Linked DNA regions of Homo sapiens. The protein of the gene in region 3 purifies or fractionates together with the protein of the main gene of each other region. This does not show direct contact. Each region holds a gene or a part of one and is shown on either strand. Other genes may lie near its edges.

Evidence for each region.
Region 1: the proteins of TMTC4 (region 3) and HEPHL1 purify together in Homo sapiens (affinity purification with mass spectrometry; one large-scale study listed by BioGRID and IntAct). This does not show direct contact.
Region 2: the proteins of TMTC4 (region 3) and ARL8B purify together in Homo sapiens (affinity purification with mass spectrometry; one large-scale study listed by BioGRID and IntAct). This does not show direct contact.
Region 4: the proteins of TMTC4 (region 3) and SNX12 purify together in Homo sapiens (affinity purification with mass spectrometry; one large-scale study listed by BioGRID and IntAct). This does not show direct contact.
Region 5: the proteins of TMTC4 (region 3) and HERC3 purify together in Homo sapiens (affinity purification with mass spectrometry, with the first as the bait; one large-scale study listed by BioGRID). This does not show direct contact.

What each region holds. Positions count from the first base shown.
Region 1 is NC_000011.10:94,110,255-94,116,402, reverse strand, and holds the end of HEPHL1 (ferroxidase HEPHL1 precursor), read right to left. Parts: intron 5,501-6,148; coding exon 5,338-5,500; intron 4,867-5,337; coding exon 4,798-4,866; intron 4,712-4,797; coding exon 4,509-4,711; 3' UTR 2,195-4,508; downstream 1-2,194. UniProt on the Homo sapiens protein: Is a copper-binding glycoprotein with ferroxidase activity. It oxidizes Fe(2+) to Fe(3+) without releasing radical oxygen species. May be involved in the regulation of intracellular iron content.
Region 2 is NC_000003.12:5,167,822-5,174,291, forward strand, and holds part of ARL8B (ADP-ribosylation factor-like protein 8B), read left to right. Parts: intron 1-2,681; coding exon 2,682-2,762; intron 2,763-4,328; coding exon 4,329-4,402; intron 4,403-4,825; coding exon 4,826-4,919; intron 4,920-6,195; coding exon 6,196-6,263; intron 6,264-6,470. UniProt on the Homo sapiens protein: Small GTPase which cycles between active GTP-bound and inactive GDP-bound states.
Region 3 is NC_000013.11:100,635,486-100,641,955, forward strand, and holds part of TMTC4 (protein O-mannosyl-transferase TMTC4), read right to left. Parts: intron 3,370-6,470; coding exon of another isoform or gene 3,196-3,369; intron 2,538-3,195; coding exon 2,445-2,537; intron 2,218-2,444; coding exon 2,053-2,217; intron 1,250-2,052; coding exon 1,047-1,249; intron 1-1,046. UniProt on the Homo sapiens protein: Transfers mannosyl residues to the hydroxyl group of serine or threonine residues.
Region 4 is NC_000023.11:71,061,812-71,067,653, forward strand, and holds part of SNX12 (sorting nexin-12), read right to left. Parts: intron 5,257-5,842; exon of another isoform or gene 5,195-5,256; intron 2,901-5,194; exon of another isoform or gene 2,777-2,900; coding exon of another isoform or gene 2,774-2,776; intron 1,139-2,773; coding exon 1,043-1,138; intron 157-1,042; coding exon 32-156; intron 1-31. UniProt on the Homo sapiens protein: May be involved in several stages of intracellular trafficking.
Region 5 is NC_000004.12:88,594,419-88,600,888, reverse strand, and holds part of HERC3 (probable E3 ubiquitin-protein ligase HERC3), read right to left. Parts: intron 5,333-6,470; 5' UTR 5,275-5,332; intron 2,940-5,274; exon of another isoform or gene 2,802-2,939; intron 1-2,801. UniProt on the Homo sapiens protein: E3 ubiquitin-protein ligase which accepts ubiquitin from an E2 ubiquitin-conjugating enzyme in the form of a thioester and then directly transfers the ubiquitin to targeted substrates.

The DNA.
Region 1 (6,148 bases), on a different chromosome or scaffold from region 3:
GTACTATGATCTCTGCTGGGGATGCAACATTGAGCCAAACAGGTCAGGCATCCTTGCTTCCACAGAGCTACATTCCAGCCAAAGAGGCAGACAAAACTTAAGCCAACAGACATAAAATGATTATGTCCTGTAATAAGTGCTGCAAAGGAAAACAGTGAAGATAGTAAATAACAGAGGGAAGGACCCACTTTAGAGAGGGAAGTCAGGGGAACCCACATGTGAACTAGAAAAGCTAGGAGAATATGATATTGAATACTGAGTGTCAACTTGATTGGATTGAGGGCTACAAAGTATTAATCCTGGGTGTGTCTGTGTGGGTGTTGCCAAAAGAGATTAACATTTGAGTCAGTGGGCTGGGGAAGGCAGATCCACCCGTAATCCATTGGTCACAATTTAATCAGCTGCCAGTGAATATAAAGCAGGCAGAAAAATGTGAGAGGGAGAGATGGGCTTAGCCTCTCAGCGTACATCTTTCTCCCATGCTGGATGCTCCCTGCCCTCGAACATCAGATTCCAAGTTCTCCAGATTTGGGACTTGGACTGGCTCTCCTTTCTCCTCAGCTTGCAGATAGCCTATTGTGGGACCCTGTGATCATGTAAGTTAATACTTAATGAACTTATATATATATATAAAATGAGTTTTTATATCATTATATACATATAAAATGAGTTTATATATCATTATATATTATATATATATATATAAAATGATCTATTCTACACATGACTGGCAGATTAATCATCTTAAAGCACAAGACCGGTATTATTATCCTCTTACATATATATATATATATATATATATATATATATATATATATATATATATATATGTTCTGTCCCTCTAAGAGAACCCCGACTAATACAGAGAGGGAATGAGGAAGCTAGGGAGGGAGAGCATTCCAGGCATAGAAAGCAGCATGTGCAAAGGCCCTGAGGCAAGAAAGAACTAGCAGAGTATAGGAGCGGATGAAAGCTGGAGCAGAGTTCAAGAAGTTGGAGGAGTGGGCATGGGCCAAGTCAAGCTGGGTCTTAAAGACCAAGGTAAAGAGTTTGGATGTTATTAAAAGTGAAATGGGAAGACAGTAAAGGGTAGTAACCAGGAAAGTGATGAAATTTGGAAAAACGTGAGGCAATGTGTGGACAGTGGTGGAAAGGAGCAGTAGTGATGATGGAGAGGCTGGTTTGGGGACTGCTGCAGTGGCCCTACTCAAGCAGGATTTGTGTGAATCTGCAGCCCAAGGTCAGGGTTAGAGAAATACATTTTGAATTTGTTTGCATAAAAATGGTTTTCCGATCATAAGGATGGATAAAATAAACTATGGAGTGGCTGGTAACACATTACCACAAACTTGTTGGCACACATTTCTTCTCTTACAGTTCTGGACCTCTGAAGTCCAAAATCAGTTTCAAGATATCTGCAAGGCCAACCTCTCTCTGGAGGCTCTAGAGGAAAATCCTTTCCCTTACCTTTCCCAGCTTCTGGAGATGCATTCCTTGCATTCCCTGGCCCATGGCCCTTTCCTCCATCTCCAAAGCCAGCAGCATGGCATCTTGTCTTGGTTGTCATATTGCCTTCTTCTGTAGCCAAATCTCCCACTGCCTCTCTTTCATAAGGACACTCATGATTACATATAGGGCCATTATGGATAATCCAGTATAAATTTCCTATCTTCAAGATCCTTAATCATACCTGCAAAGTCCCTTTTGCCACATAGGGTGACATTCACAGGTTCAGGGATTAGGACATGACATCTTTGGGGCAATATTCAGCCTACCACAGAGGGTAAAAAGCGAAAAAGGACCCAGTGTCAAGTTCTGAGGCATGCTAACATTTAGGTCAGACAGAAGAGAAGGAACTAGAAAAAGAGATTGAGAAGGAATAGTCATTGAGGAAGAAGGAAGGCTGGCAGAGAGTCATGTTGCAGAGCCAAGGGACTAGAGACTCCGAGTGTTCAGAAGGAAGGAGCTGTTTCTTGTTGCTGAGAGGTTGAGTAAGATAAAGATGGAGAAGAAGCCACTGGAAATGGCATCATGATTGGTGATCTCTACCACAGCAGATTGGGGTGTGGGGGCTGGGCACGCTGGATTGAAAGCCATCAGAATGGGCTGAGGAATGCATGGGGTGAGGTAGTACAGGCACCAAGTGTGAATACCTCTATGTTCTGCTATCAAAGGAAGAGAGAAACTGTGTCGGAGGGGGTTATAGAGTTAAATAAGACAGCACATTGCTTTCTGTTTTTAATGGCGGACATTGCTGATGGTTTCATAGAAAGATGCAGGAGGAAAAATGGATACCCAAGGGAATGAAGTCTTGAGAAAGCAAGAAGCAATGAGACCCAAAGTCAAATGAAGAGACTGTCCTGCTAGGAGCAGGGACACGTGTATTGTAATAGGAAGAAATATGTGTGTAAGTGAAGGCAGAGTTGATTTTCTCAAGAGTGAGGCTGAGAACAAGGAGTGTAGTTATGTTTGAGGAAACAATGTTTGAGAAGTCATATTATTTGTGGAGATACACTATTTTGTTTCATTTCCTCTAACAAGTGTCATTGGCATAGTCATAGCCCCTAAATATCTAAAAATTAATTCCACTTTAACCACCTCCCCTAGTTCAGTGATAGATAATTTTAAGTGAAAATAACCATGCAAATAGCCACCTTATGTGACACTTTATTAAAATGATAAATGATGCAATCAAACTACTTTGTGGTTTTGTTTTCATTAAAAAAATAAACTGAAAAGAAAAAAAAACAACTGAACAACTTGTCTTACTAAGGTGGGTAATAAATAAGGCATTTACCATAATTATGAAATTATGCAGCCTACACATGTATGAAAACTGTAGAACATGTACTATGAAATCACATTGTCAATGGTTAGCAGATTGAAATTCAAAATCTTTTGTGTATGCTGTTTGATATGACATTCAAGCAAACTATGAACAGAACTATTAGCATTTGCATCCCCTTTTATGTTAAGACTATAGCTTCTATCCAATTACCCATTTCCCCTCATGAAGATGAAGATGAGACAGTGTGAAAGGTCCCTCCACCAGAATATTTCTTAGGTCCTTGTCACTCACTTTGACATTCAAATTACCCACTGCTAAGGCAGGCATACCAGTATCACTCATCTAGCATTGGCATTGGAATCTCAGGGCATCTCGCCCAGAGCTAAAAGCAATTTCTCAGTCTTGTAATAAACAATGTTACTTTTATCAATCTTACACCTACTGTCTAAGCATAGGTATGGACAGTGTAGATTGCCTCATAATGGGTTGAGTTTAGTTGTTCAATAATTTTTTTGCATTTGAACCTTGGAAATTATTTATTAATTTTCAAAGCTGGTTTAATGGTTTAAGAGAATCTGCCACCAAGATTATCTTTTTCTCACCTTTCCTTTTCCTTTTTTCTCCTTCCATGAAGAGGTATGTCTTTAAAAGCCATAGAATCTAGGATATTTAGAGGTCCCTTCTCCTATCTAGTCACCTACATTGATAAATTCCTCCTGATGTTTCTCATACAATGAGAATGTTATAATTTCATAGAAGATGAGGACTTGTAAAGATTCCCTCTAACTGAATGAAAAATCAGACTCCAAATTCAAGCCCAGACTTGCCTCCTGCAAAGCTTCCCTCCCTGATAGAAAGCTTGCTCTAAACTCTCAGGGAGTCCCTGATTCATAAAGGGAGAGCCTAACATGTTCTTTTACAGATTTCAGCCCTCCCACAGTCTGCAGTAGAAATACAATTTCTCTACTTGATTTTTGAAAGTACAAACATTGCCACAGAAACATATTGTAAAAACATGTAACATGAAGTGAGTTGTAAACATTCAAGTATTTCTACAGGTTTGAATAAAAACAGCAGCAATTTTTTAAAAAACGTATAACTTTGCTTTTTAAAACAAGCACTGCACAGGCTATTTATATCAAAGAGGAAAAGGCCAGGAGAGCTGGTTAAAGCCTCCAAAAAATTTATTTGGTCTAATTCTATCAGCAGACACTGACTTAGACATTGCCAAGAACTCCTAAGAAAGATATTTTCCACAGAACCAAGGGATGCATGTTATGCAACAATGTTGAAAAAGTAGTGCCCTTCCAGTTAAATGTCTGAGGCACTCTAACTTTTTCTAGAAGCTGTTCACCTAGAAACTTTGGTGGTTAGCTAAGAAAGCACTGTTCAAGAATTATAAAAGATGGAATATAAAGATATCTTTCAGAGTGTCTCCTATTCAGTGAATCCAACCAAAGAATAGACTAAGAGTTGACATTCTCAGCCATGCCCATTCTCCTTTTTCTGTGTTTTATACCTGAGGATTATTCGCAGCCCATTTAAAAATAAATAAATAAAAGCAAATTGCTTTGGATGATGTTTGAGAGGATCAGAAGGCTGATCCAGGATACAGTGTCAACCTTCCTTGGTGAGTGATGCCTTGGTCCAGTTTCCCTGTTGGCTGCCATCTGGCCAGCTGTGGGACATCACCCTTTCCTGTTGAGGGAGACCAGATGGTTCACAGAGCATCCGTGGGGAGAGCACAGGACTGGACTTGCTGGTAATCTGTCTGCTTCATTGCAGAGCAGAGTCTGAGGGAGAGAATCACCGTGGTGATTAGAAGGAGGAGTCCAATGATGAAAAGGATGACCAAGGCTGCCTTGGCTCCTGTTGGACCCAGATTCTTGCCAAAGAAATAGAGCTGCTCTTTGCCAGGTCGTTCTGTGAAAAAGATAAACTTGTCAGGCCCCTGACATTTTTGAGGGGTGAAATGTTGACTCATTTACATGGGGAGAGGGTATCATTACCGTTAGATGGCACCGTGGCTGGGTGAGATGCCACTCCAGGAGATGTGGTGGAGTAAGGAATCCTGTTGTCTGCACAAAGAAAACAAGTTCATTGTTTTATTAACAACAGAAGGGGATTCTTTTCATGACACTAGTCATTTCATTTCACCAGCGAGGACTTATCCCATCAGTATCTGCCAATCATTTCTGGATTCTTACTGTGCTACTTCATTCCCATGTACATGCTTTCCTGCCCCAGCTGTCTTTCCCACTTCTGCTCACCCACTGAGTCTATCTGGAGCATCATGGCCTCTGTGAAACTTTGGCTCATATCCTCCAACTGTTACCCATTCACTCCTACTGCTGCTATTAAGCCCTGTACTCTGCATTCTGCTACGGCACATAGCATACTTGATTATAGTTACATATTTACATATATGTCTCTCTTACTTGACTCTGAGCTTGTTGAGGGCTATATCTGGGTTTTTGTCATGCCTCCTGTTTTGGGGGTCTACAGGAAGCTCGGTGCCATCATCTGGCATCACTGACAGACAACCGTACCTATGTTACGAAGGACCGTGTAGGTTGTCTCCATGCCAGCATGGATGTGGTCAGACACATGACAGTGTAGCAGCCATGTCCCTGGGTGATCTGCAAACAGTTCAATGGTTTGGAATGTCCCAGGAAAGAGATCATACACATCTTCTCGGTAAGATTTATCTATCTGCAAAAACGTTTTAAAAAACAACAGCTAGTAGCCTTCTTTGCTCAGAACAGCAAGAACAGAAAGAAGAGCAAAAACAAATAAAACCCACAGTAAGCAAAAGGAAGGACATAAGAAAGAGCAGGAATCAAGAATAGAAGTACAATAGAGATAAGTCAAAGAAATCTAAAACTGATTCTTTGAACAGATCAATAAAATCAATAAATTCTGTAGTAGCCAGCTTCCATGATGGCCCACAATGATCCCCACCTCCTGGTATTCATAACCTTTGTGGTTCCTACCTACATTGTATAAGGGTTGGTATGCGAAATCAATAGCATGTGGAAGAAGTGCTGGCATTCCAATTCCAAGATTAGGTTATCATTACTTCTGTGTTAGATACTCTGTCACCCTCTTCTCTTGGATTACTCACTGGAGGAAGCCAGTTTTCATGTCTTATCCACATGATCAGGAGCTGAACCCTCTAGTTAACAACCATATCAGTAAGTTTGGAAGTGGATCCTCCAGCTCCAGTCAAACCTTTGAAAACTGCAGCTCCAGTCGACATCTTGATTGCCTCCTCATGAAAGATTCTGAATCAACCAACTAGTTAAACTAATCCCAAATTCCTGATCCAAGAATTACTCTAAGTTTAGAGTAATTTGTTAT
Region 2 (6,470 bases), on a different chromosome or scaffold from region 3:
TAATTAAGCAGCTTCTTGACAGCTCAGACATAAATTCTCAGGTATCTAGTGCCCAGTTGCCAACTGAGTGGTTATAGTTGTTCAACACAAGCTTTGAAAAGTGATGATTAAGATTGGACACTAGGAAAGAAGTAGAAAATACTTCCAGGTCCATAAAGTAATTATTGCACAAAATTCATGCATCAAAGTTAAGCACTTTATTGGCAGAAGAGTTCCAGCATTTTCCTCCTTCATGGCCTATGTTTTTTTTGAGACATGCTCTCACTCTATTGTCTAGGCTGGAGTACAGTGGCACAATCTTGTCTTAAAGTCATATCGTTCTTAAGATCTCAACCTCCACCTCCCAGGCTCAAGCAATCCTCCCACCTCAGCCTCCCTAGTAGCTGGGACTACAGGTGCATATAACCATGCCTGGCTAATTTTTGTATTTGTAGAGAGAAGGTTTTGCCGTGTCACCCAGGCTAGTCTTGAACTCCTGGGCCGCAGCAACCTGCCTGTCTCAGCCTCCCAAAGTGCTGGAATTACAAGCTTGAGCCACTATGCCTGGCCCTAATAACTCTTAGTTTGTTCAACAAATATTTATTGAATATCTTGCTCTACTCAAGAATTTTGGAGTAAAAACTCAAGGACTTGATTAGCTAATTTTCGGTTTTTGCATGTTAGCAGTAGCAGCTGAGTTACAGGAAAGTTGTTAGGGTTGGCCAAGGTAAAGAAAAGAGATAAATGAACCCCTGAGAAAGCTCGGGGGTACCCCAGTATACTGCAGCCCCCTACATTATTTTATTATGAAGTGCTGTAGTTGATGTTCATAATCATAAAACTTTACCTCCAATAGGGAGGGCCCTTGAGTGTTATCTAATTTAGTTTTCTTGTTTTGCAATAGATAAACTGACCCAGAAACATTGAGAACACATTAAATCATGTTCTATAGGTTGTTTGTGGGAAGTTAGCCAAGTGTATATTGCCTTTTAGAAAGCTTTCCATGCAAGCTAGTTGTAAAGTTTGGTACCTAAAAATTTTAGCTACTATTTTTCCTGCCTCTTCATTATGTAAAACACTTAATGATATGAAATAAATGAGCATTATCTCACGTAGATCTCTCCTCAGAGATTAAAGCCTATCACAATAAATATAATTACAATGAAAATATTTAAGAAAAATATAATCACGATTTAGCCATGTGACCTTGGGACTCTACTACCTGTTCTATGAAATGATAATGATAATTGTCCCTCCCTGTATGATGACTAGTTTTTTAAAAATTTTGGTAAAATACATAAAACACAAAGTATCATCTTAGTCATTTTTAAGTGTGCAATTCAGTAGTGTTAAGTACATTCACATTGTGTAACCATCACCACTGTCCACTTCTAGAAATTTGTTATCTTTTCAAACTGAAACTCCATACCCATTAAGCAAATTAATATCTTCTGTCTTTATGAATTTGACTATTTTAGGTACCTCATAAAGTGAAATACAGTGTTTGTGTGTGTGTGTGTGTGTGTGTGTGTGTGTGTGTGTGAGTGTGTGAGACTTCTGGCTCATTTCATTTAGCAAAATGTCTTCATTTCTTTTGAGTGTATATTCAGAAGTTGAATTGCTGGATCATATGATAATTCTATTTTTAGGTTTTTCAGGAACTGCTATACCATTTTTCATAGCAGCTATACCATTTTGCCTTCCTGCCAGCAGTATACAAGAGTTCCTATTTCTCTGCATTCTTTCCAGTGCTTTCTGTTTTTTTTCTTTTCCTCTTAATAGTAGCCATCCTACTGGATGTTAGGTGGTATCTCTTTGTGGGTTTGATTTGCATTTCCCTAATGATTAGTGAGTCGAACGTCTTTTCATGAGTTCATTGGCCATTTATCTTTTATCATGGCTTACTTTTGATATAACTAGTTTAGATAGAATGACTAGATTTTCACATATAATCACATATGTGAAAGTCCTGAGAATTATAATGTCTTATATAAGTGAAAGTAGTGACTATGGCTGTGTTAACATTTTTTCTGAAGTTAATAAAACTCCACTGAACAGTTAAAAGAGGCACAATTCGAGTTCTGTATAGGAAGTTATTTGTACAGTTGGAATTCGTTGTGCTCAAGATTTAAGACAATTTTGGAATACATGTGTATGTGGCTAGCATAAGGCCATAGCAGACAATACTCATGACATTGAGATAAGTAACCAAAAAGAGAACAAAATTGATTACATAAAAGGAAAAACTTCTGTATGACAAAATATTTTATAAGCCTTATTAAAAGACAGACTTGGAAATGCTGTTTAGCAGTGAATTTTAATAGTTACTGTCAGAATAATTTAAATGCTGAAAGTTTTATTTCTGATCTCATCTACTTTGTGGAAATGTACATCTAGGTGAACACATTTAAAAATTTTCGTATGTATTTGTCATATAAAATTCTTTTAGCATAAGGAAATATGTAAAAAATTACATTAGTTTCAAAAATATCTTTTTTAGATGGAAGAATATATCTTTGTTGGGACAAAATAATGCATCTCTTCAAGAATTATGGCCATAAGGAACATGTTCTTAAAGTAGATTGTTACCAATGGTAAAAAAATATTTACTAAAATGGTTACAAATGCAATGTTGATATTAGAAGTTTATGCAGTGTCATTATAAGTGAGTAGCCTAACTTCAAATGTTTTATTTTGTTCAGTCAGGTCAATTCAGTGAAGATATGATACCCACAGTGGGCTTCAACATGAGGAAGGTAACTAAAGGTAACGTCACAATAAAGGTAAGTTATTTCTTGCCGTACGCAATTTAAATTGTTAGCACAGACCCCTAGAAATTTTTCTGTTAAATTTCTGTGTTTTTACTGAAAATTTGCAGTTTTTCAGTAATGAATGTGCATGTTTCAAAAGAATAGGTTTTTTTGTTGTTGTTTTTTTGTTTTTTTTTTGGAAACAGAGTTTTGCTCTTTCACCCAGGCTGGAGTGCAGTGTCGCGATCTCCACTCACTGCAACCTCTACCTCCCGGTTCAAGTGATTCTCCTGCCTCAGCCTCCAAAATAGCTAAGATGACAGGCTTGTGCCACCACACCCAGCTAATTTTTTGTACTTTTAGTAGAGACAGGGTTTCACCATGTTGGTTAGGCTCGTCTCAACTCCTAACCTCAAATGATCTGCCTGCTACGGCCTCCCCAAAGTGCTGGGATTCCAGGCGTGAGCCACCACGCCTGGCCAAGAATAGATTTTTAATCTATTTTGTTTTTCAAAAATCAAATCTATGGCCTGAGCCTTAATGTCCATTTTGCCCAATTATTGTGGTTTACAGAAGCTGTTCACTTTCTCTGTGGCTCATCTAATGAAGTTCCAGATTTAGTCAAGTGCAGGTTTCTTTATGCTTGTTACCAGTGCTTTAGTTAAACCGGAAGCCTCTTGAAGATTAATACTGTGACTTGAGACTTTAATGTAGCCCAGTGTCTAGTGTGATGCCCTACGGAGTAGACACAATAATAAAATGATTATGGATGTGGCTTTCATGTGCATAAAATAATTTTATTTTATTTTATTTTTTTGAGATGGAGTTTCACTCTTGTTGCCCAGGCTTGGAGTGCAATGGTGTGATCTCGGCTCACTGCAACCTCCGACTCCCAGGTTCAAGTGGTTCTCCTGCCTCAGCCTCCCGAGTATATTACAGGCACCTGCCACCACACCTGGCTAATTTTTTGTATTTTTAGTAGAGATGAGGTTTCACTGTGTTGGCCAGGCTGGTCTCGAACTCCTGACCCCAAGTGATCCACCCGCCTCGGCCTCCCAAAGTGCTGGGATTATAGGTGTGAGCCACCATGCCTGACCAAAATAATTTTATACAAGAAAAACACCTATGTGGAAATGTTGGCTACTTATTTACAGGATAATTTCAAAAGGTTAGGCATTAATGTAGAACAAATCAGACGATTAAGACTTAATAGATTCTGAATTGTTGTTTTCTGTCTTGGCATTCAAATCTGGATGGTGCATGGTCCTGTAGCTTTTAAATTGTTATCATAAAGACATATGTTTTCAATAATAGAAGTATATTAGTTAACAGGCAAACTATTGCACATAAACCAAATCTTTGCTTAAGCAAAATTTTAGATGTATTGTAAATGTATTAAATACGGACTTCAAGTTTAGAAGTGGCCCCAAGAATTCCCATATTAAGAGCTTGTTTGAGGTCAAGTCTTTCAGGAGCACTTTGCCTCTAACATTGTAGAAATAAATATATCTTCCCGATCTTTCTTTTTTTCTGTTACTTCCTCTTGCAATCATTTAATTAAAATATCTTTATTAAGAATTGCCTTGTTTTGATTTAAAGATCTGGGACATAGGAGGACAACCCCGATTTCGAAGCATGTGGGAGCGGTATTGCAGAGGAGTCAATGCTATTGTGTAAGTGGTTTTTTTTTGTTTGTTTGCTTTTAAATCAATGTAGGCATCAAAGAAGAAAGTTTATTTTAGTATTTCCAGAGGCTCAATTTTTATCTCAGGCAGTGAAAATCTTTCTTAGCTAATATCCTAGTGTAATTCCCAACATGGGATTTAAAAAAAATTAATCATAGAATAAGATCTTTATGTTTTTTGTTTATGGAGCTAAGAGCTAAGGGGTGTACATGTTTTACTATCATGTATTAGTCTCTAAAAACAGTCTAGTTAAAAAGTATTAAAGGGTGCTGAGCCTTTTCTTATGACATAGTTTATTTTGGTTAATAATTTCAATAATGTAAATCTTACAAAAATTAAAAATCAATAATACTAGTTGTCATCATCAAGGCATACAGAGAAGGTATGTTGAGATCACTTCATTTTTTTAAGTTACATGATAGATGCTGCAGATCGTGAAAAGATAGAAGCTTCCCGAAATGAGCTACATAATCTTCTAGATAAACCACAGTTACAAGGAATTCCAGTAAGTATGGAATACTTGTTATTTTACATTGTAATTATATAATGATATTAATTATGGTAATTATGCAGTGATATTAATTATGTTTGAAATCAGTAACATGTCTTCATTTTTAAAATCTGGAAAACTTGCTTACCATGTATCTGCCATATACTGGGCATTGTGCTAAATATGAATCTCATAACCACGTATCTACTAAACTACTATGCAGCAGGAGCAGTGCGTAGGCCCAGGGATATAGTGATGAATGGAAATCAGTAGAAACATACTCCTTGCCATCATGGACCTTATGGTTTAGTGGGAAAGGTAGATACTCTGAAAACACTTGAATAATGCAGCTTTAAGTGCTAGGAAGAAAGGTGCAAGGGGATATGAGAGTTGTAATTTAGAGGGGAGATGTGATCTAGTTTGAGGGAAGAAGGAGGGATTCACGAGGAAGTAATGGTTGAGCTGAGATCCAAGGGATACATACAAATGTGAGGTATATGACAGTTGGAGGGGAAGAGAGTTCCAGGCAAAGGCCTTTGGGTGGGAGGAAGTGGGAAACTGAGAAGAGGCCAGTCTCTAGAATACATTTAGGAATTTGCATTTGGATTAGGAATGCTCAACCAGTAAGTATATAATGCAAATCCAAAAAATTTCCAAAATTCGAAACACTTCTGGTCCCAGGTATTTTGGATAAGGGATAGTAAACCTGTACTAAGAATAGCAGAATGCCGCCGGGCGCGGTGGCTCATGCCTGTAATCCCAGCACTTTGGGAGGCCGAGATGGGCGGATCACCAGGTCAGGAGATCGAGACCATCCTGGCTAACGCGGTGAAACCCCGTCTCTACTACAAAAAATCAGCTGGGCGTGGTGGTGGGCGCCTGTAGTCCCAGCTACGGCAGGAGAATGGCGTGAACCCGGGAGGCAGAGCTTGCAGTGAGCCCAGTGGCTGCTGCACTCCAGCCTGGGTGACAGAGCGAGACTCTGTCTCAAACAAACAAACAAACAAACAAACAAACAAAAAGAATAGCAGAATGTGTATCATAGACTCAGACTATTTTACATAGCAGTTGGCAGCCACATACTGAATTAAGAGCACCTGCATGGTGGGAGTTGAGTGAATACAAGTGTGAGCAATGAAATGAATGAGACAAGCCACCAGTTACACAAATAGGCCTTAACATTGTGGAATGTGTTAACATCTTAACTTTGTGTCTTCACATATCAAGATGATAAACTTCTGTGACTTTTTCTTGCATAAACGTGTGCTCTTAATATCTTTTCTTTTTAAAGGTGCTAGTGCTTGGAAACAAGAGAGATCTTCCTAATGCCTTGGATGAGAAACAGCTAATTGAAAAAATGTATGTCTTGAATATGCTATTTTAATAATTTGCTTCTAAATTACCATATTTTGCCCACTTGTTATGTTATTCCTAATGATCATAGCCATTTTTTTTAGGTAGATAAAAGTTGGCCTATCAGAGAAGTGAATCCTAACATTTTAGGATTGCTACGATGATTTCTTCAGTATAGTAATAAAACTAATGAGTAAAATTGAACAAAGTGAT
Region 3 (6,470 bases):
TTAATTCACCTACTCCTCACTATGCCTCAAACCATTTAGGTACTGAACAGTTCAGTGGATATTGTTGGTCTCAATTAATTCAAAAACTGTCCCAATCAGTTTTCACGGGGAAAAAAAAATTCCTCCAAAATGTAATGAGAATAATAACACTTAAGTAAGTTTAAAGTTTATGAAATTTGAAATAAACAAATACCATTTTTTGGTTGCTACATCACCACCATAAATTTCAGTCAGGGAGATACGAAGCTGAGCATTGAAACACTTCTGGAACCACCTGATCATTCCCAATGTCCCCTATGATGCAAGAGGATGAATTAAGACTCTAGGTCAATTTTGGTGGCTCCTTCTTGGGCCCTGTGGCTACAGTATTTCTATAAAAATCCCATTTTCTGTGGATAAGGGAACTGGGACTAAAGTTTGTGGCTCCTTAGAATTACTAACCAATTCAACACACAGGTAAACTTAAAACTTAATTTATTTTGAGACATTACTAATCTAATTCCATAAACACTTAGGCTTAAAGGAAATCACCTTAAACAGTTTTCTTTTTCATGAAACACATTTGTTTTCCCCAATTATTTTCTCAATAACTTTTTTTTCCATCAAGAAAGAACAGTCTCTTTGGGGCAATGGCTTATTTTGTACCCAGCTACAACAGAGGGAATCATGGCAGCGTTCACCAGGGTGTTTTGAGGAAGAATTGTGCAATAATGGGCACAACACACATCAATTACACTCTCTGTTCTGACCGTAAATTACTCTTTACCACCTATGGTGAAAAGGATCGCAAAATGCTACTTCCTAGGGAAAGGGGAAGGGAGGGATGAAGCAGTCATCCGTAGCTCCTCTTCCAGCCTCGCTCCCCACCCGCGGAAGCCAGCCATGGATTCCAAATGGATGGAACTCATCCTAGCCATAAATATGCATTTGAAACAAATGTCCTTAGACGTGACTTCCACAAAATCATAAAAATGATCAGCGCAGGATTTCACAAAACGCTTCTGACTCAACCAGCGTGGAACTTAAGATTCAGTGCTGCCTCTTACCTTCTCTTGTGGCCGTCTTCAGAGCACAGGGCTTGGCATATCAGGCCAATTAGGCAGAACCAGAGTGCTGCAAGTGCAATTACCCTCCAGTCGCTGATGGACTTAATGAGGGGGATGCAGCCCATTGACCAATCAAAACACAGCCACCAGGGACACAGCAGCAGCCAGGCATTCAATGAATAGTAGTAATTGTAGTTTACGGCCTGCCAGTCAAAAGGAGAACAAACATCTATTTGATACTGAACTTAAAAAACACATATATACGCACTAACTTCACTTTGGAGGCACTCATATGCTTCTGCTCAATGAAAGCAGTTGTATCAAATAAAATGTTGCCAACGTGTATTGGGTATGTGACTATAGTCTGTAAAAATGTATTAAATGTATTCAGATTTTGGTATATAAAAATATGGCAAAGCCATCAGACTATGCAATACATTCGTTATATTTCTGGCAAAGCTATGATCTATTTGCTGCCTGAAGCCTGTGACCTCTAAATCTGAGGACCCAGGGTCACCTATACACCCAATAACATAACAGGCTTCGATGGCTGTTCTCTTGATTTTGGTCTCTATGAAATGCACAGCTAAGAATCTGTGGCTTGATACCCTTGCCTTTAGAAAAAAGGCAAATCTAAAAGAATAGTCTTGACACCACTAGTCTTCTAAAGATACCACCAAGAAGGTTATATTTAGCCTTAACCCAGCCACAGGGTTAGGGAGCCCTTTCACGGGACTGGCAAGGACCCTGATGTGAGAAGGAACCACCCTCTTTACTCCTTGTTAGAACGGAAATGCAAGGAGCTTCTGCATGCCCTTTCAACCCCCTCAGGAAGACCTGCTTTCATCCCAGAACATCTTTAGTGATCGCAAGCAAACATGGAGGTGGCGCGTGTATTGGGGATTTTGTTGGCGTGCAGAGGAGTGAGACGAGGAGGAGGGGTGAGGGATCTGGGAATCTGGTGGGGGAAGAAAAGAGTCCAGGGGGCGGCAGGCTCAGAACTCACCCTCACCAGCATGCTGTCAGCAAAGGAGGCCGGGTTGTCCACCTCGGTGAAGGCCGGCGGGCCCGTGCCCATGATCCTCCAGCGCACGTAGAGCATCCCAGCCCCTCCAGAGGTGAGCAGGGTCATTCTGAAGAGGAGGCCCCCGTTCCTGAGCATGCCGAGATTCTGCAAGGACATCGCAAAGCCCCAGAGGTGGCTGATTTTCACATAAAAGTGTGGCTGAGCCAGGTACAGATGTGCAGCAATTCTGCCTGAACTGCTTCAACACTGTGCTTTAAAAGGCTGGTTATTGTAGAATTCAAAATCACAAGGAATATTTGAGAATGGCATTTTAAATCAGCTGGTACTTGACATTTTCCATGTCTGGGCTGGAGATAAAAGTACAGACTCACCTCTAATGACTTGTCCTTATGTAGTACCTTCTGGACAATTTCCAGAACATTGAATTTGCCTATCACCAAGATGTCAAATACCGCATTTAAACCCTAAGAAAGCAAAGCAAGACAATCAGCCACGGGAGAGCTTGGCTGTGTTAGGCAGCAATTACACTTCACAATTTCATTACTCAATCTAGACAAGGAACACATAGACTAGAGAATCACGGAAGACCTCTGCAGCTCTTTAAAAAAACACATAACAGCCGTACGTTTCTATGAAATTAGCTCAAGGTAATAGATCATATTTATTATTTAGTAAGCCCCTGATAGTAATGATTTCACAGTCTGCGTGTAGGAGTTCTACAAGATTCAGGATAGCTAGAAATTTGGGATTCCTAGGAAAAGCCCTCGAGAGATACCCCCTCCCCACTTTTTTTGGTCACTATAAAACAGTCCTTTAGTTCATGCAACAGAGTGTTTTCCTGGGCAGTAATCATACTGGAAGATAAAGGCAGCCATCAACCTCAAAAACCCAGCCATGTAAGTGAACCTTAAGTGCCAGTGCACTTTGGCATCTTTAGAAATGGGATGAACACACATGATAATCTCTAATGGAGCTCTGGAGATCTCTTGTGCAGAAATCTAGTTGTCCAGTAGTTTTCTCGCTGGGTTACAACTAGATGACATCTCCCAGCCTCCCCTGCAGTTAAACTAGGTTGCGGGGCTGAGTTCTAGCCTTATGGAATGTGGGAGAAGCGACACGTACCATTTTGGATGTTTGGTTGTAAAACTTGGGCACACATTCCCACTTGGTTTCCCCTTCCAGCTGGCTGGAATGGAGATGGACAGGGTGACTTTGGAAACCACACATTGATGAGAGCAGGCCTTTGCCAGGCAGGGCCGTGGTGTGGAGGACGGCCACCTCTATCAATTTACAGCTCTGTCCATGACCCATGAGGGGAACAACAAATAACTTCAATTAGCAGTCCACCTATGTTAACAGTTTCCAATAGCACCACGATAGTTACTTTCTAGCCGGTAAAATTAAACCTGTAGTTACAGGCGAAAGGAGAGATGGGCCCTGGATTCTATTCTCTCTCCTGCCATGGACTTTCTATAAATGTCACTGCTGCAGGCAGTGTCATCGACAGAACTCCCTGCCCAATCTGGATAAAGCAGTCTGCACATACTCAGTGGATATTGTTAAAGCTGCCCCTAAATGACTTGGGTCTCTTTAATATGATCTTCTTTGCGGCAAAGGAGATCACACATCATCAGAAGTCAGTGGTAATTTGTGGTTTTCAGAGCAAGGATGACATCCCTACTTAACCCTCTCCCAGAAATGCTGGGAGCCACTAATTATCTAATACATGGGCCAGTGCTGGGTTAATCAGTTCAAAGAATTCTGATTTTATTCACCCATGTGAGACATGATCTTAGTGGGTCACAGAAGACCGTTTCTGCCTGGTTGAAAACCACTTTCTAGAAGGCAGATGCTCCCTGCGTAGCAGCCATTGTCTTCTCACAGTTTTCCTGTGAGCTGCAGGACAGTTACCAAGGGGTGGCAGGTTCATGTGGTGAAGAGGCCTGAGCCAAACACAAGACTGCCCCCTTCCTTCTTAAATGCATCATCAAAATGGCCCCATTTTAATCCAATTTTTGAGAATAGCTACCTTTCACTGTATCTTTATTCATGTAAATTCAACCGAACTCTCTCCTGCTCCTGAAAAACGGCACAGAGGAGGCCTGGCGTGGTGGCTCACGCCTGTAATCCCAGCACTTTGGGAGGCTGAGGTGGGTGGATCACCTGAGGTCAGGAGTTCGAGACCAGCCTGGCCAACATGGTAAAACCCTGTCTCTACTAAAAATACAAAAATTAGCTGGACGTGGTGGCATGTGCCTGTAATCCCAGCTACTCGGGAGGCTGAGGCAGGAGAATTGCTTGAACCTGGGAGGTGGAGGTCGTAGTAAGCTGAGATTGCACCACTGCACTCCAGCCAGAGCGACAAGAGAGAAACCGTCTCGAATAAAAATAAAAATAAAATAAAATAAAATAAAATAAAAAATAAAGTACTGCACAGAGGAGCCTCCCGAGGACCTTGTAGATGGAAATTCCGACTCAGCAGGCCTGGGGAGGGGGTGGGGCCTGGGATCCTGAATTCCTAACCCTCTCCCAGATATTGCTGATGCTCCTGGTCCTCAAACCACACTTCGTATTAGGGAAAGGTTCTAAAACCAGCAGTTCTCAGGGACGATTTTGCCCTCCAGGGGGGTGTTTGGCACTGTCTGGAGACATTTTAGGTTGTCACAATTGAGAGGTCCCACTGGCATCTAGTAGGTGGAGACCAGGGACGCCACTAAACATCCCACAAACCCAGAACAGCCCCCACAAGAAAGAACTGTCTGCTGTAAAACATTAATAGTGCCAAGGTTGAAAAACACTGTTTTAGAGCAAATTAAAAAAAAATTAACTCATGAAATTCAAGTATCTTTCTATGGTAATTCTCCCTATACCATCTCTTTGCTAGCTTAATCTTAATAGATACAACCTAATAAAACACTAATTTTTGCCTTGACTTGTATCAAGCCCCAGACAGCTTTAATTGTTCTTTCCTTTCCAAGCTATTTCTATATGATCATTCTAATCCCACAACTTGGCCAGGCGTGACGGCTCATGCCTGTAACCCCAAGGCTAGGAGTTTGAGACCAGCCTGGCCAACACAGGGAGACCCCATCTCCACAAAAAATTTTAGAAAATTAGCTGGGGTGGTGGCACACACCTACACTATACCAGCTACTTGGGAGGCTGAGGTGGGAGGATCGTTGAGGCTGCAGGGAGCTGTAATCACGCCACTGCCCTCCCTCCAGCCAGGGTGACAGAGTGAGGCTCTGTCTCAAAAAAAAAAAAAAGGGAAAAAAAATTCCATATCTTTCCATTTCTCTACCTCTGTTCACAACCTTAATTTCTATATTTTCTTCTAATAATGGAAAGCAATGGAAAGCAGGAAACTGGTTAGAATGGAGAAAAAGAAAAATGGATTTCAACACCTCTCCTTTCCTGGGTCTTTAATCCTAGCATCTACTCAGATCAGACTGAAAAGGTAGATGTCTTTCCGCTTCAGAGAGCCCTCCCCCACCCCCCTGACACTGCCGGTGGAAGCCGAGGTACAGTTTTTTTCCAGGAAAACAATGTACCCCAAGAGAATACAGTGTATACACATATTACACACAGAGAGACTTCAAGGCTCGAAGTTAAAACACGTGATTACCTGGCACATCTGGCATAAAAAGAGTTCTCTGAGAACAAAGTCCCACTAGAAACATTAGCACCATTACAGATTCTCCTTTAAATACTAGACTAGTTATTAATCTTGTAATTTCAGGTCAAACATTTGTGACCATGGAACACTTTGGTTCCAGCGTTGCTTGAAGTTGCACTTGGGTGGTGATTAACTATAACCATAGGTAACCGCTGGGGGTGGAGGAATGACGAGAAGAGAGACAGAATGTGTGTGCACGTGAGGCTTTGAGTGGCTGCAGAACTCCTGTTCCTTCATCTTTTCCTTCTTTCTTTTTTTTTTTCTTTTTTTGAGATGTAGTTTTGCTGTTGTTGTCTAGGCTAGAGTGCAATGGTGCAATCTCGGCTTACCGCCACCTCCGCCTCCTGGGTTCAAGCGATTCACCTGCCTCAACCTCCTGAGTAGCTGGGATTATAGGCATGCACCATCGCGCCTGGCTAATTTTGTATTTTTAGTAGAGAAGGGGTTTCTCCATGTTGGTCAGGCTGGTTTCGAACTCCCGACCTCAGGTGATCTGCCCGCCTTGGCCTCCCAAAGTGCTGGGATTACAGGCGTGAGCCATGGCGCCCGGCCCTGTTCCTTCATTTCTAAACTATCCACCAGCCTTTCTAGATCCAGGATCAAAACCATTGATGAGGTCAGTCCTAGGTGATCTAGGACTGCTGAAATATGTACAAGCATCCCAGAAAACTCAAACCATTCTTTTATCTTTTTCTACAGGGCCTCTCAAGAGCACTCATCA
Region 4 (5,842 bases), on a different chromosome or scaffold from region 3:
AGCAAGTGGAGCCCCCAGGAACTTGGCTTACTTGTTAATAAACTGCTCGAGGCCCTGCCTCCTTTCTTCGATGAAAGACTCCTCAAAGATCCCTTCATCTCCTCGGAAAGGGAGCTGCCGCTTCAAGGCTTTCCCAGGCAGTGGTGGTACTACAATCTGCAGGCACACACAAAATTCCAGCCACATGGGAGAGAGACAGAGTGGGAATGAGATGGTAAAGCACCGTGTACCTCATTTCTTATTAGGCATAGGGTCCATCCTGTCCCACAGCCAGCAACTTGCAAGAACTAAGACCATAAGAACAGTCAGGATGGCTCAGGTCAAAAATTAATCCGTTTCTGTGGGAAGACAGGTTTACCACCTCAAAAGAAGGAAATAAACTCCAAATAATCCTCACTTTCCTTAACAAGCCACTACCATTCAAGAATTTAGCTAGGATTTTCCTGACACTAGACTTTCCATTTTTAGCACCTACAGGAATTAAGTTGTACAACTTTACTAGCGACTAAGTGAAGTAATACTTTAAAAAAAAAACTTGTCCTGAACTTACCACTTTCTTTTTTTTTTTTTTTTTTTTTTGAGACAGAGTCTTGCTCTGTCATCCAGGCTGGAGTGCAGTGGCACGATCTCAGCTAACTGCAACCTCTGCCTCCCAGGTTCAAGCAATTCCCATGCCTCAGCCTCCCAAGTAGCTGGGATTACAGGCATCCACCACCACACCTGGCTGATTCTTGTATTTTTAGTACAGGCGGGGTTTCACCATGTTGGCCAGGCTGGTCTTGAACTCCTGACATCAGGTGATCCGCCCGCCTCAGCCTCCCAAAGTGCTGGGATTACAGGCGTGAGCCACTGTGCCCAGCCAGAACTTACCACTTTCAAGTTTCAAAAGGTATCCCCCCGATCTAAAATACTGAGATTTGATGGATAAGAATGTGTTCACCCTCTTCATTCCCTTCAAGACTTTATAGACTGTGGTTGTATGCCCACTCAGCCTATGCAGAGCTCCTCCTCCAAAGATGCCACACAGAGAACAAAGCCATACCTTGCTATCTCTCTCCAGCTCATTTTTCAGCCACTCAAAGTCACTGTAGCGCCGCCGTACGCAGGACTCCTTTAGCTTGAAGATAGGTAGGTTTGTCTACATGGAAGGAAAAATTAAAGAAGAAAGATGGTAATGTTCAGCCTGTGGTAGCCACCTGTCTGAGTAACTTGGACAGGTCCCAATGAAGAAATAGCTCCTATGGATCATGCTCCTATAACCCCTTCAAATCACCACCAGGTAAAAACCAACCCTTACCACATCCAACCTTATCATAGCTGATGATCAGAAGTCCCTTGCTGCTTTGAATTTATCCTACAAGTAGACTTGCAGTAGTATGTAAATATGTACATATAAGAGTTTTCACCAGGCTTGGTGGCTCACGCCTGTAATCCCAGCACTTTTGGAGGCCAAGGCAGGCAGATCACTTGAGGTCAAGAGTTCAAGACCAGCCTGGCCAACATGGTGAAACCCTGTCTCTACTAAAAATACAAAAATTAGCCAGGTGTGGCGGCACACACTTGTAATCTCAGCAACTTGTGAGGCTGAGGCAAAAGGATCACTTGAATCCAGGAGGCGGAGGTTGCAGTGAGCCAAGATCACACCACTGCACTCCATCCTGAGAGACAGAGTGAGATTCTGTCTCAAAAAAAAAAAAAAGAGTTTCACTGCATTTTATTATTTATAATAATAATAAATGTCTATGAATAGACAATAGGTTACAATGAATTATGGTATACCTGTATAGTAGAATATTAAATAACTATGAAAAGAATGTGAAAGCCAGGTGCAGTGGCTCACACCTATAATCCCAGCACTTTGGGATGCCGAGGCAAGGGATCACCTGAGCCCAGGAGTTTGAGAGCAGCCTGGGCAACCATAGCAAGATTCCATCTCTACAAAAAGTAAAAAAGCCAGGTGTAGTGGCAGTGCTCGCTTGTGGTCCCAGCTACTCAGGAGGATCACCTGAGCCCAGGAGGTCAAGGCTATGGTGAACTGTGATTATGCTACTGTAATCTGGCACAGAGACTCTGTCTCTCGAAATAAAAATGAAAGATCTCTATGTGCCAGTATGGAAAGATATTAAGTAGTAAAATCAAGGTATAGAACAGTATATATATATAGCTTGCCTCTATTTGTGTTTTAAAAAGGGATGTATATGTATATATTTATACTGATTAATAAAGTATTTATGAAAATATACTGGTAATGGTGATTGACTTTCGAGAGTAAGAGAAGACAACTGGAATGGGTGGAATAGTCACATTTTTCATTGTACAATTTGAATTTATCATGTGTACATATTACATTTTCCTTTAAAAAGTGAATTTAAATTCCCTGTAAAGAGATAAACACATCCAAGGTATGCCTACCTCTGCTCTTCCTGTCCAAATCCTCTCCATTCTACCAGTGCTCACTCAACTCTCACTTCAAACAAAAAAATTTTCTGACAACAACAACTGGATTTATTGGTTTTCCTCCTCTCTGAACTCTTCTGACAGTTATACTTTAGCATTGCCTGATACACTATTGTTTTATGCATCATGTTTGCCTTGTCTAACTAACTAATCTCATTAAGATCAGAAACTATGACTACTTCTGCATCTTCTAAAATGCAGAATATGCAAGTTACTCAATAAATGCTCAATTGATTAATAGAGACTCTATGTGTCTGTTTATCCTCTCCTCATCTAGAAAATGCATAAGAAATCACCATTACAAAAGTTGGCTTACCATAGCTTGCTCCCTGATATAAATCAGCTCATTCCCACATTTTAAACACTGAGAAGATTCCCAAGGCTCTAGTGGCAACACGAATCCCCTGACAGAAAACCCTGATCTTCACTCCTGTCTACAAGTTCTAAATAGAAATGGCCAACCACATGTATTAATACTGACCATATTTACTGCCAGTCAATTCAGGTGAGAGGATGAATAAAATAAACTAGTTATCTCCTTTCTCCACAACTGCCTCTTGGCAGGAAAAGAGCAACTCGAAACTCCATTAGAGCTTCACACAGAACCCACTACATCATGCTTTGTACTCCTTGACACTGGAAATTGTCTTTTCAGGATCCAGTTCTCAAATAGGCCATCAAAAGCCAAATAACTGGCCAATTGTACATTAAACTCCATCCAGGATCGTCAAGGTCCAAGGAATGTCAATAGGTTGAAATGGAGTGAGATTCATATAAAGTAAGATTACTAAACCATTATTTATTTAAAAGAATAAATAAGGGCTGGATGCGGTGGCTCACGCCTGTAATCCCAGCACTTTGGGAGGCGAGGCAGGCAGATCACTTGAGGTCAGGAGTTCGAGACCAGCCTGGCCAACATGGTGAAACCCTGTCTCTACTAAAAACACAAAAATTAGCCAGGTGCTTGTAATCCCAACTACTCAGGAAGGTGAGGCAGGAGAATCGCTTGAACCCAGGAGGCGGAGGCTGCAGTGAGCCGAGATCATGCCACTGCCCTCCAGCCTGGGTGACAGAGCAAGACTTTGTCTCAAAAAAAAAAAAAAAAAAAGAATAAACAAGGCCAGGCGTGGTGGCTCACACCTGTAATCCCAGCACTTTGGGAGACTGAGGTGGATGGATCACTTGAGGTCAGGAGTTCGAGACCAGCCTGGCCAACATGGCGAAACCCCATCTCTACTAAAAATACAAAAATTAGGCCGGGCATGGTGGCTAACACCTATAATCCCAGCACTTTGGGAGGCCGAGGCAAGCGGATCACTTGAGGTCAGGAGTTCGAGACCAGCCTGGCCAACATGGCGAAACCTGTCTCTACTAAAAATACAAAAATTAGCCAGGCGTGGTGGTACATGCCTGTAATCCCAGCTACTTGGGAGGCTGAGGCAGAAGAATCACTTGAACCCGGGAGGCAGAGGTTGCAGTGAGCCGAGATCATGCCACTGCACTCCAGCCTGGGCTACAAGAGCAAAACTCTATCTCAAAAAAAAAAAAAAAAATTAGCCAGGTGTGGTGGCACCATGCCTTATGCCTGTAGTCCCAGCTACTCCAGAGGCTGAGGCAGGAGAATCGCCTGAACCTGGGAGGCATAGGTTGCAGTGAGCTGAGATCATGCCACTGCACTCCAGCCTGGGTGACAGAGCGAGACTCTGTCTCGAAAAAAAAAAAAATTGTGGAAGGGACCGATTAAAAGTTTAGTGAGTAGAAAAATTTTGCATGCTAAAGTTTTGCTACTAAGTGTTGTCAAGGAGACAGAAGTGTAGCAGAAAGAATATGGAGTCAGACATATTTGTGTTCAAATTCCAGCCCTGTCAGTTATAGTTACGTGTACTTGGGCAAGTTACTTAAACTGCATTCCTCCTCAGTTTCCCATGTGTAAAACGAAGTTCTGTAAGGATTAACACAAATTAAAACCTAGTTCAGTGCCTGGTACACAGTAGGCACTAGATGAACAGTCCCTGTTGCTATTAGAATACCTGGAGTAGGGCCAGGCGTGGTGGCTCACGCCTCTAATCCCAGCCCTTTGGGAGGCCGAGGCAGGAGGATCACTTGCGGTCAGCAGTTCAAGACCAGCCTGGCCAACATGGCGAAACCCCGTCTCTATTAAAAATACAAAAATTAGCCAGGCATGGTGGCATGTGCCTGTAATCCCAGCTACTCGGGAGGATGAGGCAGGAGAATTGCTTGAACCCAGGAGGCGGAGGTTGCAGCGAGCCGAGATTGCACCATTGCACGGCAGCCTGGGCAATAGAACGAGACTCCATCTCTTAAAAAAAAAAAAAAAAAAAAAAGAATACCCTGAGTAAAGAGCGATTTCATTCAGAATCCCTAAGACTCTTGGGTAATGCATTGAATGTCTCCAAAACCCCACAGCAGACAGCCCTTATGCTGTACTAGTCATGCCCAAGCTCCCTCAGGTAACTAAGTTCTCCAGCACTGACAATTTCCTGCTTTTATCATATTCTGAAGGACCTAAATTCCATTCTCCCCCAAAGACATGATTTCACATAGTTCTTATATAGACAAGTGTTTCTCATGTTTTGCTATTCACTTTTCTTTCTTCAGTTTGGACTTTGCCAAACTTGGAATCTGGAAATCATAATTTCTCAATAAGATTTCAAAGCCCAAGTAGGAGACCACAATTTCTCATTCAATTCACTCCTTCAACAATGAAAGCACATACACTCTTTTAGTTCTTCAATGCTGTTTGAGCAGGATGCTGTCCACAGAGAATATTCTGGCCTTTTAGTCTGAGAAGAAAACATAAGGAAAACTAGAAAATGATTCTCAAACTGTTTTGCCTATAACCACTTCAAGTGGGCAAAAGATCCTGCAAACCAAGTACTCTATCTGCACATTCCATCCTTGCATTATGGGCTAAGCACTAGAGAGTAAAGTCCTCTATCATGCATGCTGGAAGAAGCCACTCCTGGGCAATTCTGAAATGTCATGTATTAAAGTAACTACAGACCAGGGTCAGAATCCAAAAGGGTAATCTAGGACAGAAAGGGCAAAAAGCCATTCATATACAAAGTACCTAAACGAGAGTCAATAAATACTGAAATAAACATTCTGGATACTTCAAATCTAAAGGATCCACATAGAATGAAAGCAGTGACTGACAAGGCACCAATCCCAGGGCCAGGCCAGGTTTCAAGGCGAGACAGCACGTAGTATCTGCGAAAACTTAAGCATAAAACATTTCTCTCCTTCAGATGCTGATCCGACACAAGTTAGGAAAGCGCTCGGTCTCAAGGAGACTCCCTTTCTTATTTCTGCTCCCACAAGCCTACTGTCTGCCTTTTCTGGAATCTACCTTCCCTTTAATTCA
Region 5 (6,470 bases), on a different chromosome or scaffold from region 3:
CTTATCTCTCCTACCTTCTAGTGTTCTTAGGTGCAAGAAGGTTGTGATGTGCCTTACAGAGAAAAAAATGTGTATTAGGTAAGTTTCTTTCATGCATGAGTTATAGTGTTGGCTGTGAGTTCAATGTTAATGAATCAACAAGCGGGTACATCCAAAATATGGAACAGGAAATCTGCTGATCTGTATGTGAGGCCTCCCCTGGAGAGAGCTAAAGTAATATCCAGAGTACATAATGAAGCTATAGATACAATGGAAAAGCAATTAAATCTGTGGATTCATGAGATGACAACCCATAAAAAATAAAAATCACAGTGGATAGCACTGATGTGAGGCTGAAAGCCAAAAACACTGTCACATTACACAGGGTCAAGAAAATGTTAAACCCTTCTCAACTAGTGTTTTATTACCAAGAAATATTGTGTATATTAGTAAGAAATATATATTAAATAGGCTGTCTAGACAGAAACACACATAAAAAAAGGTTATGCGTCAGCTGGCTGATAAAAATCTCTTGACCACAGCCTACAAGAACCTAATCCTGTATTTCCTCAGAAACAATGGCTCTGTATTCACTAATATGGTATTCACCATGACTTTACAGAACCTAACTATATACAGAGTATAACAAGTCCCTTCTTTGTTTACTTAAGCTTATTTATTTATGCTTGTTTGAATCAGGTTTCTTTCACTTGCAATAAAAAGAAACTCCTGACTGATAATATTAATAATGACATTATTAATAATAACAGCAGATAAGACCTGATTTGAGCTTACTCTGAGTCTGGTACTTTTCTATGTGCTTCACAGATGTTGGCTCATTTCATCTTCTATGAGACAGGTACTGCCATTATCTCTAATTTACAGATGAAGAAAGTGAAACTAACAAAAAAAAGATGAAGTAAAGGAAAAGAAAGAGACACTATGCTGTGCTGTATAGTAAGGAGCTTAGAAAGTAGATAACCAAAAGGCCAGACTTCCCAATGTGTCTGCACCACTCTCCAGAGAAAACAGGGACCCTGATCAGTCAACCTGGCTATCTGACCCGCTAAGTAATTCTTTCCTAAAAGTGGATGGGTGGATCAGATTCCATAACAGTTGTCACTAAATTCACCCAACCAATTGCCTTGCTTAGCAAGCAACCTTAAATAACTTGGTTTCTAGGGCAGATTCTACTACAGGGATAGAATACTGTGACCAGGTAACCAAAGCATCTCAGTCTTATTAGGATTTCTAATTCTCATTATTAATTTGGCGTCCTGGGTCTATCAGCTTTTTTTGTAGTTTATCTGGCACGAGTCAGTCCTTGAGAGTCATCTGAGTTCTGGGTGCTTTGGCCAAGCACAATCCTGTGTAAACAGCCTGAAGTATGGCCTCATCCCTGACTGACTAGTAAAAACAATTTATGAAAAAAGATAATAAAAAGGACTATTGTTCAAGAAAACTTCAAAAATTCTTCCAACTGAGTTACAGTAATGGAATCTTCAATTGGTCAAATAAAAACTGCCCACCAAGAGAATTAAATAGCAACCACAAAAAAGATGTGTATCTGTAAATAAACTATCAATCCTAACTATAAATACGGCCTAGGTCATCACAATGCTCTGCCGGAACTAAAGAAAAAAGCAACTAAAATCATCTAGCTTTCAGGAGAGAAGTTCAACACATTGGAGAGAAGCCAGCCATTAGCACAGCTTTCACTTCAAAGTACACTCCAGTTGGACCCCTAAATCTTGTAGCTGCTGATGTCCATGACTTTAAAGGTCTAGTTTCAGCAACGGTCTGCATCGCTGGGCATTTTGATCTCCAAGGTCCTTACACCCATTTTTCCTCATTCACTCTCTTGCTTGCTCCTAGAAGAGCAGAATCTTTTATTTTCCTTCAAAATACACAATTATGAAATTCGCTGCAAAATATAGGACTACACTTCCCTCAGCACCTACACCAGCCCCGCTTGGCTGCATTTCCTGCCTCTTATTTCCCCATGACAAAACAAAAGGAAGGACTACTTTTGAAGTACAACTTTCTCTCAATGTCAACCTGGCACTTTCCTGAGTCCTTCTCATCTATTCTTGGTAAGAGATTCAAGATAATCTTAGCAGAGCTTAAGGGTCAAAGGAACTAAAATCCAAGCCCTACATTAACCACGTTAGCTGTGAAACCTGAGGAAAGATGTTTACCCACCTTAAGCTCCAAAATCAGGAGAAGGTGCTAGAGTGTTGTGAGGATTAATGAGAAAATGCATGTAAAAAGGGCTTAGCATGGTGCCTGGCATGTAGTAGTAAGTGACCAGTAAATGTCAGCTGCTTTAGTCAATGTTACTCCTACTCCTAGTGCTCTTCTTTGAGATTTCAGCAGACAGGACAATTCCCAAAAGAGGATGGGATTGTGACTCCTGTCTTCCTCACTGCAATTAGCACTAGCTGCATTCTGCCAAATCTGCACTACAGCAAAGTAGCATCACAACCATCTGCCATAACTTTCATGAAAGGGATTTGAGGTTGATAGGAGGAAGTTTTTTTGTGTGCATTTGCTTTTAAATTCTGGAGAGGGCATGGGTGGAGGGCGGTGGGGAGATAAATCTCTTTTTACTAGCTCTAGTGAGTTGAATGCTAAACGACAACCTTCAGTTCCTAAACTTTGTCTTATGATAAGACTATGCGACTATGCACACAGCAGCCTAACAACTCATTCTTATCCCTTTGTTTGAAAGGCACTGAGACCAAAATAACACTCAGGCAGGACTTCTAATCTCATTTAAAATAGGGATAAGCTTCCTTTCAAGTAAGCTTAGAAGCAATTACCTGAATGTTGTATATATGAAGAGGGTCTCTTTCAACAGCAGGAAAAGACAATGTCCAAAACCTTCAGTGCTTTGCAGATACTCCCCAAATTCAGGCTTTAAATAAATGTAGGGCCAAAACTAAAATGCAGAATTAACTCTGGTAACAAAGAAGATTCATTTTAATGACTTGCCTTATTATCAAAAATGTTCCTACCAAAGACAGAAATGTCATAGAAGGCAAAGAGAAGTTTTCAACAACGTGAATCCACTCCTTGCTGTTTTCTCTCTCCTCCACTTTAGCTGGACTTTGGTCCTCTGACCCCCTCAGCCAACACAGGAAACACTCCTACCCTTCCCCGGATCATCCCCTCTAAGGTGGTGCCTTCTTCACTACCTGGTGCTAGGCTTTGTGAAGCTGGAAGAATGACTTCTCTGCAGTCTGCTTAAGCTGTGGACTGCCTTCAAAAGACACCAACGAGACTGGCAAGAATTGAAAAGTCTAACAATACCAAGTCAAGGATATACAACAGCCAGGGCCCTCATAGACAGCTGGTGGGAATATAAACTGGCATAAGCACTTGGCAAAACAAGTTGGCATTCTCCAGTGAAGATGAAGATGTGGATACCTCCCCACACAGTAATTTCACTGCTGGGCATATGACCAGCATTATCCAACTTATTAAGCATCTATGGTGCTCCTGTACTATACTAATAAATGGAGATACAAAGATGAGTAAAATCTGGAAACTTGGAACTTTCTGTGATAATGGAAATGCTATATATTTGCACTGTCCACTATGGTAGCCAGTAGGTATATGTGGCTATTGAGTACTTGAAATGTGACTAATACAAGTGAAGAACTGAAATAGTTAATATTTTATTTTAATAAATTTTAATGTAAGTAGCCCTAGGTGACTAGTGGCTATCTTACAGTCCAATGCAGTGAGAAACTCATGAACATATGCACCAAGATACACGTATAAGAATGTTCATTCCAGCATTATTTGAAATAGGAAAAAAACAAAAAACAAATATCCATCAATAAGAAAACAGATAGTGTGGCACATGCATAAAACAGAACACTGTACAGCAGTAAAAAATAAACTCCATCTATAAGCATCATTGTAACTAAATCTTAAAAAGTGTTGAGTCACAGAAGAATTCAGAGTATGATGCATTTTTACAAAATTCAAACACAACTATAACAAATATATTATTTGGAGATTAAGAATCATCAGTGGTAACAAAGCTATGAAGAAAAGCAAATCACAAACACAAAATAGCGGGTAATGATTGTGGAGGCAGTAGGAATAGAGGGAACAATCTGGAAGGAGCACAAAGGGAGACATTTCAATAGCATGGCTGATATTCTGCTTCTGTCCTTTTATTGTTGTTTCTTAACATATATGACATGCATTATTTTATGCTTACAAATACTTCACAAAACAAACAAAAATGCAAAGCGCTGTTGAGGCAGTATGGCTGCTTCTCCTACCTCCTCCACTAACACCCTGCCAACGTGCAGACTGGGAGTTTCTCCATGAAGGAACCAGGTTTTACTCATCTTTGTGCCTTCCATTCTCAGCAGAGTACAAGAGCACAGCAGAGGCTTGATAAATGCCTAGTGAACTGACCCCCATTCTTAGAAAACCTGAATTTCCACCACCTCAACTTGTAACCACTTTTATTTTCCAGATAATGTTAAAGATCCCCCACCCTGAGTAATAATAAAACCAGTTCACTTACACAGAAACACATGTCCCTGCCACCAACAAGTACTATTTCTAAATGGAGTAAATGTCTAAAGGGGACAGAGTTATATTATCAAATTTACCACCTTATTAAAAGTCCATTTGATCTAACCTCTAAGCAAAAGACTTACATTCCTAAATTCATTTTAATGGCAGCTAAGGCCTTCAGAGGCCAAGTAACTTTGGTCCACTAAGAATTAAGTGCTTGGCCAGGCGCGGTGGCTCACGCCTGTAATCCTAACACTTTGGAAGGCCGAGGCAGGCGGATCACGAGGTCAGGAGATCAAGACCATCCTGGCTAACACAGTGAAACCCCGTCTCTACTAAAAATACAAAAAATTAGCTGGGCGAGGTGGTGGGCACCTGTAGTCCCAGCTACTCGGGAGGCTGAGGCAGGAGAATGGCATGAACCCCGGGGGGCGGAGCCTGCAGTGAGCCGAGATCCCGCCACTGCACTCCAGCGTGGGCGACAGCCAGACTCCCTCTCAAAAAAAAAAAAAAAAAAAAAAAAAAAGAATTAAGTGCTTGAAGCAGAGACCAGAAACCAGGTCTCCTACTTCTTGGGCTCACCTTGTTCTCTTCACTATCTTAGAGCAGCAGGAAGGCACTGAGATTTGTTTAGGTCCCTCTCTAGGTAGCTACCCTAGCTTGAGTTGATGAGAGTATTAAACAGGATAATGCATGTAAAGGACTCCATTTACAAGATGAAAAACTGAGGTCCAGAAAAATTAAGTAACTCACCACAGGTCACACACTTGGCATTGGACTAGAAGCCAGAAATATTCCACACCTTGCAGTTCTGCAAGTTAAAGAAATAATAAATAACATTAGTATGGAACTCTGTTGTGTCTTCATGTTACTGTAAACAAAAAGACAGGAGTTAACCTCTGAAAATAAGAATATCTTTAAATTACTCAATCTTGAATATTCCCCACGCATTGTATCTCAAGACAGGAGTTTGGTTAAATACCAGTAAGATAACCTCTAACCAGTTATAAAGACATCAATCACCTCTAAAAGTGAACTAGAGATATAGATATCACCTTATAAAAATTCCTGACATTTGATAGGGAGTAGTAAAAATGGAATTACTTTAAAATCTCCCATTTTTGTTAGAGAAAATTTTGGAAAATAATTAAATTTTGTCTATTTTCTTTATTTTTCCATGTATGACACATAGCAGCTTGTTTTGCCACAACTGTTATGAAGACTGTCTCCTTTCATTCCTTTTCTTTTTTTTTTTTTTTTTTTTTTTGAGACAGAGTCTGGCTCTTTCACCCAGGCTGGAGTGCAGTGGCCGATCTCGGCTCACTGCAACCTCTGCCTCCCAGGTTCAAGCGATTCTCCTGCCTCAGCCTCCCAAGTAGCTGGAATTACAGGCGCCCGCCACCACGCCCAGCTAATTTTTCTATTTTTAGTAGAGAAGGGGTTTCACCATGTTGGTCAGGCTGGTCTCCAACTCCTGACCTCAAGTGATCCACCCGTCTCAAGCCGCCCAAAGTGCTGGGATTACAGGTGTGAGCCACTGCGCCCAGCCAGTCACTGCACCCGGTCTTTCCCTTTTCATTACCACATCCTCCATCATGCAAAATGAGAAGAGATCATCTCAGAGAGATACCTAAAGTATCTCAAAAGAAAAAGTCCTCCATGATTTTAAGATATTTTTGTCAAGCACTTTAGGAGGCCCAGGCGGGTGGACAGCCTGAGCCCAGGGGTTGGAGATCAGCCTGAGCAACATGGCAAAACCCCGTTTCGTCTTTTGGCGAAACCAAAAACTACAAAAAATTAGCTGGGCATGGTGGTGCACGCCTGTGGTCCCAGCTACTTTGGAGGGTAAGGTGGCAGATTCGCTTGAGCCTGGGAGGCGGAGGTTGCAGTGAGCCGAGATCGCACCAGTGCACTCCAGCCTGTGCAACAGAGCGAGACCCCCCATCTCG